2 separate regions of the Homo sapiens genome follow, and region 2 is linked to region 1. The links come from fine-mapping of genetic effects on gene expression. Tissue or cell type: whole blood. Region 1 holds a variant in brackets; the other region holds the start of a gene. All regions are shown on one strand. Distances are from middle to middle.

Region 1 (10,230 bases):
CAGATCAGGTGATTGTCTATGTAGAAAACCCAAAAGAATTGACAAAGAAAAACTTCCTGAAAGTAAAAAGTGATTATAGAAAAACTTCAGAATACAAGGTTAATATAAAAAAGTCTACTGCTTTCCTATATACCAGCAATGAAAAAGTGAAATTTGAAATTTTAAACACATTATCATTTATATTAGCACTCCTTAAAAATGAAATGCTTAGGAATAAATCTAACAATATATGTATAGGATCTATATGAGGAAAACTATATAATTTTTGTGAATGAAATATAAGATCTAAATAAATAGAGGGACATTTGAGATTCATGGATAGGAAGACAATATTCTCAAGATGTTAGTTCTTCCCAACTTGATCTGTAGAGTCAGTGCAATCACAGACAAATCTCAGCACATTATTCAAGTCACATGGCCACACCTGACTTCAAAAACGAAGTGTGTACAATTCTCCTGTGGGAAGGAACACTAAATATGCAGAAATAAGTGATGTTTATCAGAGAACATGTCACCTCAAAAATTATAACCTAAGGTTGTAAGAATCAGCAAACTGATTCTAAATGTTTTTTTTTTGTTTGTTTTTTTGAGATGAAGTTTCACTCTTGTTGTCCAGGCTGGAGTGCAATGTCATGATCTCGGCTCACTGCAACCTCTACCTCCTGGGTTCAAGTGATTCTCCTGCTTCAGCCTCCCGAGTAGTTGGGATTACAGGCACCTGCCGCCATGCCCAGCTAATTTTTGTATTTTTAGTAGAGATAGGGTTTCACCACGTTGGCCAGGTCTGGAACTCCTGACTTCAGGTGATCCACTGGCCTCGGCCTCTCAAAGTGCTGGGATTACAGGCGTGAGCCACTGTACCTGGCCTGATGCTAAAGTTTATATAGAGGACCGAAAGACCCAGAATAACTAACACCATGTTGAAGGGGAAGGACAAAGGTAGAAGACTGATACTACCCAATTCAAGAGTTACTACAAAGCTGCAGTAATCAAGACTGTGGTACTGGCAAAAGAACAGACAAGTGGACCAATAGAACAAAACAGAAGCCCAGAAATAGATACACATAAATATAGTCAAATGATCTTGACAAAGAAGTAAAGGTAAGAACATGGAGCAAACATGGTCTTTTCCACAGATGGTGCTGGAACAACTAAATGTCCAAATGCAAAAAAAAAAAAAAAAAAATCTAGAGTTATACCCTTCACAAAAGACTTTACACCCTTCACAAGAATGAACTCAAAATGTATCATAGACCTAAGTGTAAATACAAAACTTTAAAACTTCTAGAAGTTAACAAAGGAGAAAACCTAGATGACCTTGGGTTTGGTGTTGATTTTTTAGATACAAGAACAAAGTCATGATCCATGAAATAAATAATTGATAAACTATACTTCATTGAAATTAAAAACTTCTGCTCTGCAAACACAATGTCAAGATAATGAGAAGAGAGGCCACAGACTGGGAAAAAATATTTGCAAAAGACATATTTGATAAAGGACTGTTATCCAAAATATACAATGAACTCTTAAAACTCAACAATAAGAAAATAAATGACCCAATTTTAAGGACAAGCCACAGACTGGGAAAAAAATATTTGCAAAAGGCACATCTCACAAAGGGCTGTTAGCCAAAATATATGATGAACTATTAAAACTCAAAAATAAGAAAACAAATAACCCAATTTTAAGATGGGCTAAAAGACTTTAACAACCACTTCACCGAAGAAGATATACAGATGGGAAATAATCATATGAAACGATGCTCCACATCATTTGTCATCAGGGAAATGCAAACTAGAACAACTATGAGCTACAACTACACATCTATTAGAATGGTCAAAATCTAGAACACTGACAATACCAAATGCTGGCATAGATGTGGAACAAAAATTCTCATTTGTTGCTGGTGGAATGCAAAATGTGACAGTCTCTTTCGAAGACAGTTTGGAGGTTCTTACAAAACTAAACATACTCTTAACCATATGATCCAGCAATTACACCCCTTGGTATTTACCTAAAGGAGTTGAAAACTTATGTCCAAACAAAAACCTGCACATAAATGTTTTTAGTTGCTTTATTCATAATTGCCAAAACTTGGAAGCAACCAATATGTCTTTCAGTAGGTGAATGGATAAATAAACTATAATACAACCAGACAGTAAATCTTCTTTTCATTCTTTTTTCTTTCTCTTTTTTTTTTTTTTTTTTTGAGACAGAGTCTTGCTCTGTCACCCAGACTAGAGTGCAGTGGCACAGTCTCAGCTCAAGACAGCCTCAGTCTCCTGGGTTCAAGTGATCCTTCTAACTCAGCCTCCCAAGTAGCTAGGACTACAGGTGTGCACCACCACGCCCGGCTAATCTTTGTATTTTTTTGTAGAGATGGGTTTTCATATTGCCCAGGCTGGTCTTGAAATCTTGGGCTCCAGCAATCTGCCCACCTCAGCCTCCCAAAGTGCTGGGACTACAGGCATGAGCCACCATGCCTGGCCAGACAGTGAATTTCCTTCAGTGCTATGAAAAGACATGGAGGAAACTTAAAAGTATATTACTAAGTGAAAGAAGTGAATCTGAAAAGGCTACATACTATATGATTCCAATTATATGGCATTCTGAAAAATGCAAAATACAAAGACAATAAAAAGATCAGTGATTGCCAGGGGTTGCAGAGGGGATGGAGGAAGGATGAATAGCTGAAGCACAGAGGATTTTTAGGGCAGTGAAAATGCTCTGTACAATACTATAGTGAAGGATATATAACATTGTCCAAACACATAGAATGTACAACACCAAAAGTGAACCTTAATGTAAACTATGAAATTTTTTTTTTTTGAGATGGAGTCTCATTCTGTAAACCAGGCTGGAGTGCAGTGGCACGATCTTGGCTCACCGCAACCTCCGCCTCACGGGTTCAAGCTATTCTCCTACCTCAGCCCCTTGAGTAGTTCAGATTACAGGTGCGCACACCATGCCTGGCTGAGTTTTGTACTTTTAGTAGAGACAGGGTTTCACCATGTTGTCCAGGCTGGTCTCAAACTCCTGACCTCAAGTGATCTGCCCACCTCAGCCTCCCAAAGTGCTGGGATTACAGGCATAAGCCACTGCGCCCAGCTTAAACTATGAATTTTTGATGATCATGATGTGCCAAGGTAGGTTCATCAGTTGTAACAAATGTACCACTCTGGTGGAATGCTGATGATGGGGAGGTTGTGCATGTGTGGGGTCAGAAAGTGTATGGGAAATCTCTGTACCTTCCACTCAATTTTGCTGTGAACCTAAAACTCCTCTAAAAAAAAATCTTTAAAAAAGGGTGGGGGAGTCTTGGCAGTTCAAAAGAGGGTAACACCTTACTATTATTGGAACATGAAATATGCATTTATAACTGTGTAGTAACTTTTACGTCTCATTTCTACATAAGTATTGCACAAAGCACCTATCTTGTAACTTTCTTTGATTACAAATGAAGTAAGTGTTCCTTTGAAGTATTTATTGATCATTTTCTGGCTCTTTTGTGAAATGCCACCTTGTGTTCTTTGCCTATTTTTCTATTAAGCTATTTCCTTTTGGTTTTTAGTGATTTATGCATATATTCTAGATACCAATCTTTTGTTAGATGTATTATAAATATATTTTTCCAGTTTGTGACTAGTCTTTCCCTTCTGTAGTTTTTTTCATGTCAAATTGATCAATTTTTTCTTTGAGTATTTCACTTTTTTGTGTCTTAAGAAATTCTTACTTGAAAAACTTGAAAAAATATTTTCTTTATTTTATTTAAACACTTTACTTTTTTTTTTTTTTTTTTTTAGACAGAGTCTCTCTCTGTCACCCAGGCTGGAGTGCAGTGGCGCGATCTCAGGTCACTGTAACCTCTGCCTCCCAGGTTCAAGTGATTCTCCTGCCTCAGCCTCCTGAGTAGGATTACAGGCACCCACAACCACACCCGGCTAATTTTTGTATTTTTAGTAGAGACAGGGTTTCACTATGTTGGCCAGGCTGGTCTCGAACTTCTGACCTCTGGTGATCTGCCTGCCTTGGCCTCCCAAAATGCTGGGATTACAGGCATGAGCCACTGCACCCAGCCCTAAACACTTTACTCTTCATCCTACTTTGAAACAACTCATGGTAGAGTTAGGCAATCATGGACGTTAGCTTGCTCAATGGCAATGTCATAAAACAGGAATTTCTCTCATATTACACAGACACAGCTGACTTATTAGACATTTCATTGTGCCATCTCTGTGACCTTTGGCAAGCCTCAGTTTCCATAATAACACCACCTGCTTTTTTCAAAGTATCACAGGCTGATTTGAAGAAGTGGAAAATACCATTTGTGTTCCAAACTGCACAATGAATGTGAAAGAGGTTTGCAAACTATAAAGCACTATACAAAATAAGGTTTCCATTTTATAATGTTACTTTATTCTTTTCTGCTATAATTAAAAGTATAACTTTCTTTTCCATAGGTCATATGATAAGAAAAGATTGAGCAATGAATATTCAGTAATGTTTATTTTTTATTTATTTTTTATTTTTTTAGACAGAGTCTAGCTCTGTTGCCCAGGCTGGAGTGCAGTGGCTCACTCGGCTCACTGCAAGCTCTGCCTCCCGGGTTCAAGTCCTGCCTCAGTCTCCCAAGTAGCTAGAACTACAGGCGCCCGCCACCATGCCCGGCTAATTTTTTTTTTTTCGTATTTTTTGTATTTTTAGTAGAGAGGGTTTCACCGTGTTAGCAAGGATGGTCTCGATCTCCTGACCTCATGATCCGCCTGCCTCGGCCTCCCCAAAGTGCTGGGATTACAGGTGTAAGCCACTGCGCCCTGCCAGGAATGGTTTTAAAAATGAATGAATTTAACAGTGCAGATAAAGTTTAAATTCCTTCTGTTCCCTTCTACAGTACTGGTTCCTTTCTCTGTTCTCCTGAGGCAGCCAGTGTCACAAATATTTGTTTACACTCTCCTTACAGTTTTCTTAAAAAAGTATGCATCAACAATGTTTAGAGTGTTACAAACCTATAGAAAAGTAGAGAGAAGAGTATGATGAACTCATATCTACCCATGAATGAGCTTCAGTGGTCAACACATTGTCAAGTTTGTTTCATCTATGCCTCCCCACTCCATATCCCACACCCTGTTGGGTTATTTGAAAGAAAAACTCAGCCATGTTGTAATGTAGTTAATACACACTTCGACAGAATCTCTAAAAAATATGGCACACTTACCCTGTTTATTAGTCAGTTTTCACGCTGCTGATAAAGACATACCCGAGACTGGGAAGAAAAAGAGGTTTAATTGGACTTACAGTTTCACATGGCTGAGGAGGCCTCAGAATCATGGTGGGAGGCGAAAGCCACTTCTTATCTGGCAGCGGCAAGAGAAAATGAGGAAGACGCAAAAGCGGAAACCCCTGATAAACCCATCAGATCTCGTGAGACTTATTCACTACCACGAGAACAATATGGGGGAAACTGCCCCCATGATTCAAATTATCTCCCACCTGGTCCCTCCCACAACAACACGTGGGAATTATGGGAGCTACAATTCAAATTGAGATTTGGGTGGGGACACAGCCAAACCATATCACCCCTTGACCTTTCTTTTCCCCCCACAAACATAATCACAATAATATTACCACACCTAATAAATTAACATTAATTCTTTAACATCATCGATTAATTAGTAACTGTTCAAATTTCTCCAATTGTTTCACACATTTTTTTTAAAAAGTATTTGAACAAGTTGAGAGTCCAAACAAGGTCCACATATTTATTTACTTGAATTTATTGAAAAAACTATGTCTTTTTTTCTGGAGAATTTCCACATCCTGGTGGTGTCATTTAATATATTCCTCTGCCCTCAGCATTTCCTATACACTGGTAGTTAGAGCCAGAGGTTTGACCAGTTTCAGGTTTGACACTTAGGCAAAAGTACTTCAGAGACAGTACTGTGTTCTTTGTATTGCAGCTCATTAGGAGTCCTGTAGTGTCTGGCTGTCACTGTTTTAGTGACGTTAAATCAATCAGAGGGTTTAGCTCTTATCAGCCTAAACCGTTCATATCGTTTGTCATTAGTATTTCACCTAATGGTTTTAGGGAATGCACATGTTTAAGGCATTATTTTTATTTTTTTGAAACAAAGTCTCACTCTGTTACCCAGGCTGGAGTGCAGTGGCGCCATCTCAGCTCACAGCAACCTCTTCCTCTCGGGTCCTGGTTCAATCAATTCTCCTGCCTCAGCCTCCCAAGTAGCTGGGAGTACAGATGCCTGCCACCACACCTGGCTAATTTTTGTATTTTTAG[C/T]AGAGACGAGGTTTCACCATGTTAGTCAGGCTGGTCTTGAACTCCTGGCCTCAAGTGATCTGCCTGCTTTGGCCTCCCAAAATGTTGGGATTACAGGCGTGAGCCACTGCGCCCAGCAAGGCATTATATTCTTATTGCTTATTTCTACTTCTACCACGGTGTGCTGAAGTGTCTGTTACCCCAAATTTCCCATGTTTATATAAGAATTTTTAAAATTCCTTGTCAAATTGACTGGAAGGTAGGGTAATCTCATTGTTCAAATATGCATTTCTTTACTTATTTATGAGGTTGACCATAAACATTCATATATTTGTTGGCAATTTGTACTCCTTTTACATATTGACTATTCATGTTATTTGCTGTTTTTTTTTCCTAATGGGATGTTTGCCTTTTCTTACACACCTGTAACATTATTTTTGTTTGTTTTTTAAAGAGATTTTTAAATAAGTAGACTTATTTCTTTCTTTCTTTTTTCTTTTTTTTTAAGATGAGATCTTGCTCTGTCGCCCAGGCTGGAGTGCAGTGACGTGATCTCGGCTCACTGCAACCTCCGCCTCCTGGGTTCAAGTGATTCTCCTGCCTCAGCCTCCTGAGTAGCTGGGACTACAGGCACGTGCCACCACGTCCAGCTAATTTTTTGTATTCTTAGTAGAGACGGGGGTTTCACCATCTTGGCCAGGCTGGTCTCAAACTCCTGACTTCGTGATCCACACCCCCTTGGCCTCCCAAAGTGCTGGGATTACAGGCATGAGCCACCGCGCCTGGCCAAGTAGACTAATTTCTAAAACTGCCCTTAATTTTTCTCTCCGTTTCTTCACTGAGTCCATCCTCTGGCAGATACCAGATGCTTTCAGAATGTTCAGCTTGCTCCCATGATAATTAGTTCAAAATTCCATTTCAAGCGCTCCCCTCGCTTCCTCTGGGTAGATACCCATGTCCTGGGATACTTATCTCACCAGAGCTGGTTGCCAGTGGTGGAAGCAGGAGCAGTTGTGCCTGCTTTCTTGATCTAGGTTGGGTGGTTAGAGCTTTTTAAATTTATTAAAAACATTCATCCTCTGATGGCTTTTCTTTTTTTCTTTTTTTCTTTTTCTTTTGGCTTTGCTTTACCAGCAGGTTTTATTTTGGAAATTAAGTAACTTGCTGAATCATGAAGTCATACAGCTAAGCAGATTTGAATTCAAGTTGTTTGGCTCCAGAATCAGGGCTCTTAATCACTGTATACTCAACTGTTCTCCATGATGGCTCAGGCACATGCAGACATGTAAAGCACTATGTAATACCAGCCGATGTGCTTTTACTTGTATCCAATTGGCCTTACTGTGCTACTCCCTTCAGACTACAAAACAGAAACCATAAGGTTCCCTAAGATTTGTGTGTGCTGGCAGACGAAAGGGAATGAGGACAGGTGCGGACAGTGTGCGTGGGTGATGTTTAGTGAGGCGCTGGAGGACAAAAATGGAAGACTCATGTCTTTTGAGCTTATTAAAAAAGGAAAAAGATTTGAGAAGAATTCAATAAGTGAGTTTTTCCTAAGAATTCCCAATAAAAAGAACTAGATATAACTTTGGCTACAGAGAAGGGGATGGCCGAATTAAAAGTAACTGATCTATCTTCATATATATAGTATGTATATACACATATATATATTTTAATAGAGATGGGATCTCACTATGTTGCCCAGGCTGGCCTCAAACTCCTAGGCTGAAGCAATCTTCCTGCCTTGGCCTCCCAAAGTGCTGGGTTTATGGGTGTGAGGCACCATGCCTGTTTCTAATATATTAAAAATATTAATTACCTATTAAAATCCTTAATCTTTTATCCTAGTCTGATGTTTGTTATGTAATTTAGTTAGTTCTATTTTGAAAAAGACATTCACAATTTTTTGTTCAACAAAATGTAGTCTTTATATTTTTAGAAATTGATTTTCCATTTGCAGATTAAATCTTAAGTAAAATATTCTTGGTTTTTTACGTTTTATTTCTTACATTTAACTCTGTACTATTACAGAAGCCTTTCTCTGCTCTCATTTTTGCCCCCTATGACTCAGTTTCTAAGAGCCACAGGATCTTTAAACAATGCTGTAATTAAACCATTTCACTCTCTTGCTTAAAATCTGTGGCTTCTCATTAGAATAGAACCTTAATTTCTTTCCTTGGTTTACAAAGTCCTAAAAATTCATGTACTACTTTCCCCATCATTCACTTAACTCTAGCCTCACTGGTCTCCTTTCTTTGAACTCACCCAGCCTTTTCTTGTCTTAGGCGTCAGAGTAGCTTTTCTTTTGCTTGCAGTCCACTTCTCTTTGTTGAGGTTCTGAATCAGAGCCTAGCTTAAACATCTCTTCAGAAAGGCCTTCCCTCATCATCTGGTTGTTCTCTATCACACCAGCTTGTTTTCATTTTATGCACAGAACATGCCTCCGATATCTTCTTGCTTATTTATTATCAACCTCTGTGAGTTGTATGCTCCTTAAAAGCAAAGATCTGTGTCTGTCTTGCTCACTACTGCATCCCAGGACCAGAATAATGCCTAGCTAATAAAAGGTTTGAGAAATATTTGTTGCATAAATTCTTTAATCTATTTAAGCTTTATTTTATTGTGTGAGGTGAGACAAATCTATTTTTATTTTTCTCAAGAACTGACTTTTCTATTTATTGGAATGGGAATTATCCATCCTTTTACCACGAACTTAAGATGCCACCTCTATCAGATATTTATGTATTGATATATATTCGGGTATGGTGTGGGTTTTCTACTTTATTCTGACAGTTCAATCTCATGCCAGTTTCACTGTTTTACATGCAGGAGTTTTAAATTTCAAATACCCAACTGCAATGCCTCCTACATTTATCCTCTTTCTCCCTCACCAATTCTCCATTTTTAAGATTTTCTTGGCCGGGCACAGTGGCTCACACCTGTAATCCCAGCACTTTGGGAGGCCGAGGAGGGCGGATCACGAGGTCAGGAGTTCAAGACCAGTCTGGCCAACATGGCGAAACCCCGTCTCTACTAAAAATACAAAAATTAGCTGGGCGTGGTGGTGCATGCCGGTAATCCTAGCTACTCGGGGAGGCTGAGGCAGGAGAACTGCTTGAACCAGGACCCGGGAGGCGGAGGTTGCAGTGAGCCGAGATCGCACCATTGCACTCCAGCCTGGGCTACAGAGGGAGACTCTGTCTCAATTCTTGAACAGTCTCACCACTTATTTTTCTCTTTATAAGTTTAATACTTCTTGTATTACAGATATATGTTACTTTGTGGAGAATTGCCATCTTTAAAATATTCTCACCAACAGTGTGTTTCATTTTCCATTTCCCTATACCCTCATTGTATATCAACTTAAAAATTGTTAGTCTATTAGATTCACCAGTGTTTTCTTCTACATTTTCTTTTCCATTTTATACTGAAATTTTTGATTCATTTGAGATGCATTTTGGTGTGAGAGGTGAAATAGAGATCCAGCTCCATATTTTTCCCCCAAGGATCTGAAATAGCCTTTATCATATACTAAATTTATATTCATATAAATTTGGGTTTGCTTCTGGACTCTTATTGTTTGATCTTCTCTTCTTTTACCATACATTGAATTATTGTAACTTAACAAAGTTTTACTAGTGAGCAGAGGTAGTTCCCTCTTACCACTATTCTTTTTCAGATCCCATCCCCGGCAGTCATTCTTGCCTGTTAAAAAAATTTTAATTGGATTTTAGAACCATTTCCTCAAATTCTCCCCTCTGCTAAAGCCCTTCTGTGCTTTATTTCATTGAATTTACAGATTAACATAGAGAGAATTCACATTTTCACAATATTAACTCTCCATATACAGTACAAGTCATTCTTTTTAAATGTCTTTTTGACTCTCACTGGAAATCCTTTTTTCAATTATATTTGGCTACTGCTGGCATACAGAAAAGCTTTTGGGTTCTATGTATTTG
Region 2 (10,230 bases), 96 kb after region 1:
GTCAGAGGCTTAGCACCAATTCAGCCTCATTCTGTCCAACTCTCACCTTCTAAGCCATTCCTAGTATCTAGACTCTTTCTTTATTCCTAGTAATCTAACCTCTCTCTCTTGAAACTCACTTCCCAGAAATCAGATGCTTTGCCATTTACTGTACAAGGTAACAAAGTTTCTCTAGGAACAAGACACTCACCGTAAACCTCCGGCCTATTTTCCCAGGGCCTAAAAATACTGGCCCTGAAACTTGTTTCTACTTTATAATGTGGGCTGCTATCCATTAGGTCAACTCTGCCATTTTGCCAACATGCTGAAATGGCCGTCTTGCACGCATGGCTGGATCTCCTACACGCCAAATACCATCATCTACTTATTGCCTGTTTCCATATTCCCCTAACATTCAACCTGCCTGTCCACATTTCTTCCTCAGACCCACTATCAGGAACTTCTGAGTCACCTGAAGTGTTCCACCAGGTCTAATCAGAAACTAAATTAATCCACCCTTTCTAGTATAGCCTACCCAAACTGAACTCTAGGACAAATACCTAGAATATAATTTCTAGTTGCTCTCAATTTCTAGAGAGAAAATTGAAGGATTTGGGGCATGAATAATGACTTTAAACCTCTTCTTCCAAATAAAGGTTGTGACTTCCGAAGATAAATGAGGCTATGGAAAATGAACGTCTAACCAGAAAAAGAGTGTCAAGAACAGATTTAAAATAGTGTCGAGGATAGGTTTTTAAACCATTGATTAAAAAAAAAAAAAGAAAAGAATAGAATCCCTTTCACAAAAGCAAGAACATGTCTGAATCATGAATTAAGGTATCTTTGAAACTAAATTTGGAGAGAGGAGGAAAAAAGCATATCTTTTAGACCCTTTTTATCATGAAAAATGTTCAACTTATGTACAGAAAAATATAATGAAGCCCCATGATCATTCAGCCCCAACAATTAGTAATATGTTACCATTGCTGCCTCATCTATTTTTTACTTTGCTGAGGTAAAATATAGATTTTTAAAAATAGGTTGCAGGGTTTAAAACCTAGATGACGGGTCGACAGGTGCAGCATATCACCATGGCACATGTGTACCTATATAACAAAACTGCACGTTCAGCACATGTATCCCAGAACTTAAAGTAAAATAAAAATAAATAATAATAAAATAAAAATAGGATACTAAGGTAGAAGATGGAAAGAGTCATAGCAAAATAATTTTCAGGTGAAAAATAACAAGAGACAATAGGGGACAATATTTATGGAGTTAGATGGTGATATACCAAGGCAAAATGTGAGTAACAAGCAGCTAAAACAGAAAGTTTAGGGGTTTTTCTTTAATTGCATTTTAATACATAAGTGGGAAGCTATACCCCAAAATGTCAACAGAAAAGTCATTTTAAAATGTATGGGAGACACTTCCATTAATTTATAAGCAATTTGAGATAATAGTAAACTATCACCAAGTTTCATAAAATGATAAATTTATTTCTAAGCAGTTTACATAAGCATTGAAAACTTCTGAAAAGTCAAAAACTTAGTTTATAATAATCTCAATGAGTATTTTCTCTAGAATATGTATTGTCAGCATATAACTACTTGAACTAAGTAATTTTATAAACTAGTAGAGATCACTGGAATGAGAAATGTCAAGGTCATATAAGTAAATGAATGGGAAACTACCATTAGAAGTCATTTCTCATGACTTTCATTCTACAGCACTCTGCAACACACCCTGATAGTTCTGCCAAATATACTGACTAAAATGACATAACCCAAGCAAGTCTGGTAAAAGTGAACCAGTCTGGTAAAAGTCTGGTAAAAAGAACTCTGAGCTGAGGGACAGGATGGATTATTTATATTTTCAAATATACATCTCAATTCCCTTCCTATTACCAATTTTAAAAATACTCTTTACGGGAGCACTGTAGCTTAAAGGAGAAAGTTGTAGATTTGAAACCTTGGTCCTTTTCCTTGCATTGCCACTAACTAGTAGTGTGACTTTAGACAAGTTTTTTTTTTCTTTTTTTAACTTCATTAAACCTCAGTTTCTCATATGTAAAATGAGAATCCAAACAGTATTATTAACATTTACTACCCACTTGCTATTTGCCACATACTGTATTAAACAGCATAGCAGGCAGTTCTTGCAACAACTGCTTGAGTTGGGTGCTTGCTCTATTTTACAAATAAGGTAAAAGAGGCACAGCACAATGTAATATATTCCACAACATAGAATAAAGGGCAGAATCAAGATCTGAACCCAAGCAGTCTCACTTCACAAATGGCTGTGCATTTAACTCCTACTCACATGGTCTCCTTATTGCCTTGGCAATAAAGCTTCCCGGGAAGTGGGATGCTGTGCTAAAACTCAGAAGCATTATCTTAAAAAGTGAATTTATTCTCCCTTTTGCCTGGTCCTTCCTCTGGTGGAAATATCAATAAACAAAGGAAAGGTGGGCGAACAGGAAGAAGCCAGTTGGTTTCTTTAGTAGACATTGCTACAACAAAATAACTTGCTTCTTCAGAAGGCTGTTTATCTTTTCTCTTGTAATACTTCATCAAAAAGTTTGCTCTTCTTGGGTCTGAACAATAAAGTTCTAATGAACACTGAAGGGTCTACCAGCACTCAGGAATGCAAACTAAAAACAAAATTCTAAGCTCCAAAACCGTCTGAATGGACCCCTCCTCTCAACTAAGGGCATTCTAAAGTAATTCAGGCCATGATGGGAAGAGGGGGTCAGACATGTCTCATTACACATTCCTCCCTTTGGAACTCAGGAACAATTGAGCAGCATTAACATTAAAACAGATCTTAAGGCTTTTTGTAACAATAAGACACCAAATTCCAGCTTTACTCTAGTATGGCATCACAGGACAGATAGCGGGATCTGAAAGAAATAAAAGCATTTTACTCTAAAATATATTTCTTTACATATTTTGAATTGGCCCTGCAAAGATGTCTCTTAAGGGGAAAATCTATATTCTGTAGAGAACCCTCTTCCCTGTCCAGGTCTTTTTCCTGATCCACTAGAAAATTAACTAGGAGTCTGGGACCTTTTTAAGTCTGATAAGAAACATTTACAATCTATTCTCTCTGAAGCCTGCTACCTGGAGGCTTCATCTGCCTAATAAGAACCTTGATCTCCACAACCCCTTTATTTTAACCCAGACACACTCCCTTGTATTGATTCCAGGTCTTAAGATAAACTCTTTCAACGAACTGCCAATTGGAAAACCTCCTATAACTTGGAACTGTCCCCAGCCCGCTTTGGGTTGTCCTGCCTTTCCAGATCAAACCAATGTACATCGTACATGTATTGATTGATGTCTTCTGTCTCCCTAAAATGTATAAAACCAAGCTGTAGCCTGACCACCTCGGGCACATGTCATCAGGACTTCCTGAGGCTGTCACAGGCATATCCTTAACCTTGGCAAAATAAACTTCTAAACTGATTGAGACCTGTCTCAGGTACTTTCTTGGTTTACAGGAATTTAAGCAAATTACAGGACTGCACTACCCATGAGTTTGTGAAAGGAAAAATAAATCTCAGGACCCCAAAATCACTAAGCCAAAAAGAAAAGTCAAGCTGGGAATTGCATCGAGCAAACCTGCCTCTCATTTTATTCCTGAATAAGATAGCTACAAAGATTAAAAAAAAAAAAAAAAAAGCTACATACCTCCCTGACAATTTGCCCCCAAGGAAATTCCTTGTGGGCCTCAAGACCTTCACTCTAAAACAGTTCTGTTGTATTTCACCCTGGCAATGTAAATTGATAGCTTATCTTCACAGGTATGGGACAAAGAACAGAACTCAAAGTCACCCCTCTACCCACCTGAGACAAATGCGTAACTGACTGCTTCCTCTGCCCTACTGTGTATGTAAAATCGCAGATTCATTTAGCCGACTAAGGCATAAGTGACTATTCTTCTATCCCTCTCTCACATGTAAATTGTGTATTAAGTGAAAAGCTGATCAAAGACTCAAAAGAATGCAACCATTTGTCTCTTATCTATGACCTGGATGCCCCCCAACCTTCTAGTTGTCCTGCCTTTCTGGAGGGAACCAAGGTACACCTTACCCATTGACTAATATCTGAGGTCTCCCTAAAACGTATTACACCAAGCTGTGCCCCAACCGCCTTGGGCACATGTCATCAGGACCTCCTGAGGCTGTGTCATGGGCACGTCCTTGGCAAAATAAACATTCCAAATTAAGACCTGTCTCAGATACTTCTGGTTCACAAGTTATTTAAACAGCATCTCACAGCCTCTGGGGCGAGCTTCGGGGAATCTGACTGGAGAAAGTGAGGCCACATAAGTTTGCTGAGTGTGCTAGAAGTTCAGGCCCAGTTCTCAAAGCCTGCCAGTCACGCCAGCCATGTTAGGTCACACGGCTCCACTACGGTCTTTTTTGACGAGGCCCAGATCCTCCGCATCCCCCTAAACTTCAGAGCCTGCTTTCAAGCCCATTTGAGAGCACAGCTGGGATCCCGCTTCCCCGGGCCAAGTTCAGCAAGGAGAGGCCGGCGCGCGCACACAGGAGGCACGGGATCAGGGCCCGGCCCGCCCTCGCAGGCCGCGGCCCACCACCTTCCCACCGCGGGCGCCGAGAAACCGGGCCACCGCCGACTCTTCCGGCAAATCAGAGCGGCCAGTGAGCGGAGAGGGACGGGAAGCGGCGTGCGAGGCTGGCGGGCTCGGGCGTCAGCGCGCCCCGCTGGGTCCCTGCCAGTCCCAGCCAACTGCGGAGCCCCGGGTGCGGCCTGGAGTTCGGAGCCCGCCTCGGGCCTCCTCGGGCCTGCGCTCCGCTCAGCCTCGCGGGCCGCCATGAGGTGACGAAGAGGAGGTGCAGGGCGCCGCTCCCGGCTCCTTACCGCTTCACCACGCCGGTCTTGATCTTGATCTGTCTCACGCGAGGATCGGCCATGGTCCCTCGAGCGCCGCGAGAAGGAGGGGCGGAGAGCCGGGGTAACCGTGGAGGGCGACGCGCAGAGGCTGCGGCTATTTAGGCGTGGTCGCCGGCGCGCATGCGCAGGCTGCGCGGCCCGTCGTCCCCGCCACGCCCCGCGGGGCGGGTTTACTAGAGGGCGGTACCCTGCTCCCGCCAGTCCCTTTACCCCTCGTGCGCCCCTTTACCCGTAGTGAAACGTGCCCTCCTCCTCTCTCTCGGACTGCCCCTCTTTTTACTTCAGGCGCAAGTTACACTATCCCGGTCTCCACAGCCTGGGCCTTTGGGGAAACTAACGTCTCTCTGGGACGTTGCTTTGCGGGATTATCTGCTTAATGGACGGAGTGACCTAAAAAATGTATTAAGGGTATTTTCGATGTCGTTATCTGGTGTCAGATGAGGCAGAGTGATGCATGTGTAGTGAAACAAACTGCCATCATGCACGCAGTCAAGAAAATCCTTGCCCTTTACCTCAAATCCCTGCAAGAAGGTTTGTAGATAACGTGCCTTTCAAAGGAAATGACTAACAGAACTTCTTCAGATGATCACTTATAGTGTATCCTAAATATTTAACTTACAAGAATGTGTGTCGCACACAAAACCTTGGGCTTCCTAATCAGACAAACCGGCTTACAATCGAGGTTCCACCCTTTAATAGCTAGACTATTAGCTAGACAACACTGATACGTATGCTGTTTAGCCTTGCAGCTGATCAGTCTGCAAAATGGAAATAATAATGTCCATTTTACAGATTAGGTATAAGGGTTAAAACACCTAGCTCATTGTCTGACGCATGGTAGATGCTGAACAACATTTGACTATTTTATATGTTCAAAAATATATTTGTTGCATAAAATGAGGCACATCTACAGTGAGCTCTAGCAGTCCCTTCCTAAGAGAATCTCCTGAGGAATACAGGGCAGAATCGCCCTTTTTAAAATTGCTTTTCTTTTTCTTTTTCTTTTTTTTTTTTTTGAGACAGATTCTCACTCTGTCGTGCAGTGGCTTGATCTCGGCTCACTGCAACCTCCGCCTCCTGGGTTCAAGTGATTCTCCTGCCTCAGCCCCTAGAGTAGCTGGAATTATAGGCGCGTTCCACTATGCCTGGCTAATTTTTTTTTTTTTTTTTTTTTGTATTTTTAGTAGAAACGGGGTTTCACCACGTTGGCCAGGCTGGCTAGAACTCCTGACCTCAGGTGAGGCCCACCTCACCCTCCAAAAGTGCTGGGATTACAGTCATGAGCCACCGAGCCCACCCCCTTTTTAAAATTTCTTGGTACCATCCTTCAAAGACACCCATATGACTGTCTTTTTCCTTCCCTAGCCTGACTTACTCATTCTCACTTTCATGACTGGTCCTGGAATCCCCTTCTATCCCGCCAGCCCAAGGCCGTTACTTTAAATCCAGGATCAAAACTGAGCAAAGTCTACTATGACTCACCCCACCTGTTCAATCTTCCCTGGATGCTTTGGAGTCACCCAGTAGTCATCATTATTTTTAGTATATTTCTTTTTCAAATTATTGTTTGGTCCTTCGTAAGGGTTTTGTTCAGCTTCGTAGTTATAAATCCTGGTTCATAAACATGTTTAGAGGCAAGATTCTTGTCTTCCATAAATCTTCCTTCCCCAACCTCCTCCACCTGTGTTTTGTGCACAATGGGCACAGAATTCAATAAATATTTTTATTCTGCTGGCTGGTATACTGATGTGCAATTCCAAGTCACACAGCAGCGCTGTGAAATACTGGAGGGAGGGGTAGATAAAACACAACAGCAAACTTACCAAAGCAAAATGACATGCACACACACACACAAACACACACACACACACACACAAACAGCAGCTACAAGCCACAAACCAAAAGATGGTGCAGCTAGGGCTTTTGCTACCGTTAAGGTCTTTCCTTTGATTAGGTAGCAAAAACCATGTAACTCGTCATATTTTCCTTTTTTGCTTTGGTTTCAAGAAGCTCAGAGCTCAGTTTTGTGCTAATTTGCAGGAGTTTCTCTCAAACTAGGCTTCCCAATACAAATACCTGCTATTTCCCCCCAATCCCCAATTCTGCCTCCCTCCTTTTGCCCCCTTTCTCTTTGTTTTAATTGATTTGTATCTGTGCCTTTACTATAAATCAATAATCAGTAAATGTCAGCAGCCAAAAGACCTCTGCTGCTACTGCCATTGTGTGTTTCCAGGCCCATTCCCAGGCTCTGGAGGACACTTTGTGAGTTTATCTGTGTCTGTGTATACAGTTGACCCTTGAACAACAGTTTCGAATTGTGCAGGTGTGTCAGAGGTGTTTGAACCAAAGCAACTCCATCTTGAATAGGGTCTGGGTAATATGAGGCTGAGATCTGCTGGGCTCTCTTCCCAGGAGGTTAGGCATTCTTAATCACAGGATAAGATGGGAGGTTGGCAGGACTGGTTTCACTAGACACAGACCACAAAGACCCTGCTGATAAAACAGGATGCTGTAAAGAAGCTGGCCAAACCCCACCGAAACCAAGATGGTGACAAAAGTGTTTTCTGGTTGTCCTCAATGTTCATTATATGCTAATTATAATGTATTAGCATAATAAAATAAACTCCCACCAGCACCCTGACTATTTACAAATACCATGGCAATACCTGGAAGTTACCCTATATGGTCTAAAAAGGAAAGGAACCCTCAGTCCCAGGAACTCCCCACCCTTTCCTGGAAAGCTCATGAATAATCCACCCCTTGTTTAGCATATAATCAAGAAACAACCATAAGTATACTCAGTCAAGCAGCCCATGCCACTGCTGTATTCAGTAGCCGTTCTTTCATTTTTTTACTTTCTTAATAAACTTCATTTCACTTTATAGACTTGCCCCAAATTCTTTCTTGCACGAGATACAAGAACTTGCTCCTGGGGTCTGGATGGGGACTGCTTTCTGGCAACAGGCCCACTTAGAAGAAGAGTTTTTTCAATAAATACAGTCAGCCCTCCATATTGGCAGGTTTTGCATCCACAACCAGACAAGGATGGAAAATACAGTATTCCCAGGATGCAGAAACCCACATATAGGCAAGGCCCACTTTTCTGTGGGTTTCTTAGGGCCAACTAGGGAACTTCTGTGTGCACTCAAGCATGAGTTTTGATATCCTTAGCAGTTCTGTAACCAATACCCCACAGATATCAGGGGACAACCATTCTATATTGTATTCTTGAGTCTATGGGTTAAGATTAAGGAGTTTGGCGCCGCCTTTAAGGATAAGAATCAGAAAGACTTGTTTCAGGTTTCAGGAGTTTACAATAGTGGTTAAGAATGTGAACCCTGGGACTAGACTGCCTGGGGTCAATCCTAGCTCTGCATCTTACTAACTGTGTAATATTGGACAAGTTACTTAACCTCTCTATGCCCCAGTTTCTTTCTTCTGTAAAAGGTAGATGATGAAAAACTTAAATGAGCTAATAATTGTAAAGTGCTTAGGATAGTGCTGGTACTTATTAAGCCCCACATGAATGTAAACCAAAATAAAATTGTGAACCCCCACCCCACCCCGGGCTATCTGAATGGACCCCTCCTCTCAGCCAAGGGCATTCCAAAGTTAACCTGAAAAACTAGGTCAGCCCACGAAGGGAAGGGGGAATCAGACATGCCTCTTTATACCCTCCTCTCTTTTGTAATTCAAGCACAGCTGACCATTAACAAGTGACCTTAAGACCAATAGAACAGACTCTGTAAGTCTGATAAGAAATATTTGCAATCAGGCTGGGTGCAGTGGATCACACCTGTAATCCCAGCACTTTGGGAGGCTGAGGCAGGAGGATCACGAGGTCAGGAGATCGAGACCAGCCTGACCAACATGGTGAAACCCTGTCTCTGCTAAAAATACAAAATTAGCCAGGCATGGTGGCGCATGCCTGTAATCCCAGCTACTCGGGAGGCTGAGGCAGGAGAATCACTTGAACCCAGGAGGCAGAGGTTGTGGTGGGCTGAGATTGTGCCATTGCACTCCAGCCTGGGAAACAGGAGCAAAACTCAGTCTCAAAAAAAAAAAAGAAAAAAAGAAATATTTGCAATCTGTTCTCTCTGAAGCCTGCTACATGGAGGCCTCATCTGAAAGATAAAACCTTGGTGTCCACAACCCCTTATCATAACCCAGACCTTCCTTTCTATTGATTCCAGGTCTCTAGATAATAACTCTTTCAACCAATTGCCAATCAGAAAATCTTTGAATCTGCCTATGTCCTGGATGACCCCCCTTTTCCAGTTGTCCCACCTTTCTAGACTGAACCAATGTACATCTTACATGTATTGATTGATGTCTTATGTCTCCCTAGAATGGGTAAAACCAAGCAGTACCTTGGGCCACCGAGGTACCTTGGGCCAGTACCTGGCCACCTTGGGCACATGTTCTCAGGATCTCCTGGGCCTATGTCACAGCCCATTGGTCACTCATATTTGGGTCAGAATAAATCTCTTGAAGTATTTCACAGAGTTTAACTCTTTTTGTCAACATAATATTTAACAAACATAAAGTTTGTTAAATAAATAAGTCATTTTGGAAAGAGGTCCCAAATAAGAAACTAACAGCATGGTAGAATTCACATTCATATGAATATAAAAATGTACATATTATCGTTAATGATATCATGCTGAATTCATGTCTGATTCATAATTTTGTATGAAAAGGACTCATGTTTGACTTATTCACCACTGTATCCCAACATGTAGCAAAGCCTTACGCACAGCAGTTAATAAATATTTCTTGAATGTAAATAAGTGCTGTTTGAACAATCCTTTTGTTTTCCATTTAATAATATGTCACAGAGACTTCCCATTGCAGCAAGATGACTACTAAGACAACCTGAATCCCCACCTCCCCACACACACCATCTTCCTCTGGGCTTTGCTCTTTCGGGTCTGGACTCTGAGGAGGCAGGCTGATGGAAGGCCATTTCAGGTCAGTTCAGGAGAGTACTAACTGTAGGGAGGCCTGCAGAATCTAGGCAGGGAGATGCCCTCCAGCATTTGAAATGGAAACTAACTAAGCTGCATTTCTCACTGTCTAGCACCCTTTTGTTCTGTTATCCTTAAACCTAATTGAATACTGTTTAAATATTCCAGCCTGGCCTCAGGTGAACTACAGGAATGAGTTTATAAAGGTCTTTACAAGGGATAAGTCCATCCACCTTTGAGATTTAGGGTTGAAGAGATCTGAGAGATTAACAGCACTGAGTGAATCTGGCAGAACAAGAGAAAAGTCTAGCCATCTCCTCCCTGAGTGATAATTCTTGCATTGCCAATCTTGGAAGGTTGAG

What was found. PIP is the estimated chance that this variant, and not a neighbour inherited with it, causes the effect.
Region 2: TBCA starts here. The variant in region 1 is fine-mapped to the expression of TBCA in whole blood (INTERVAL, PIP above 0.99).

The regions. Positions count from the first base shown.
Region 1 is chr5:77,675,834-77,686,063 of GRCh38, forward strand. No RefSeq gene overlaps it. Among named protein-coding and RNA genes, the nearest start is that of OTP, 42 kb to the left of the region's middle. The variant C/T (reference allele first, on the strand shown) is at 6,293.
Region 2 is chr5:77,771,337-77,781,566 of GRCh38, forward strand. It overlaps TBCA (tubulin folding cofactor A), which reads right to left and starts at 5,003. Exons shown (of 4, transcript NM_004607.3): 1 at 4,869-5,003. The coding sequence starts at 4,921. RefSeq lists enhancers at 1,812-2,697, 2,698-3,582 and silencers at 4,600-4,769, 4,890-5,149.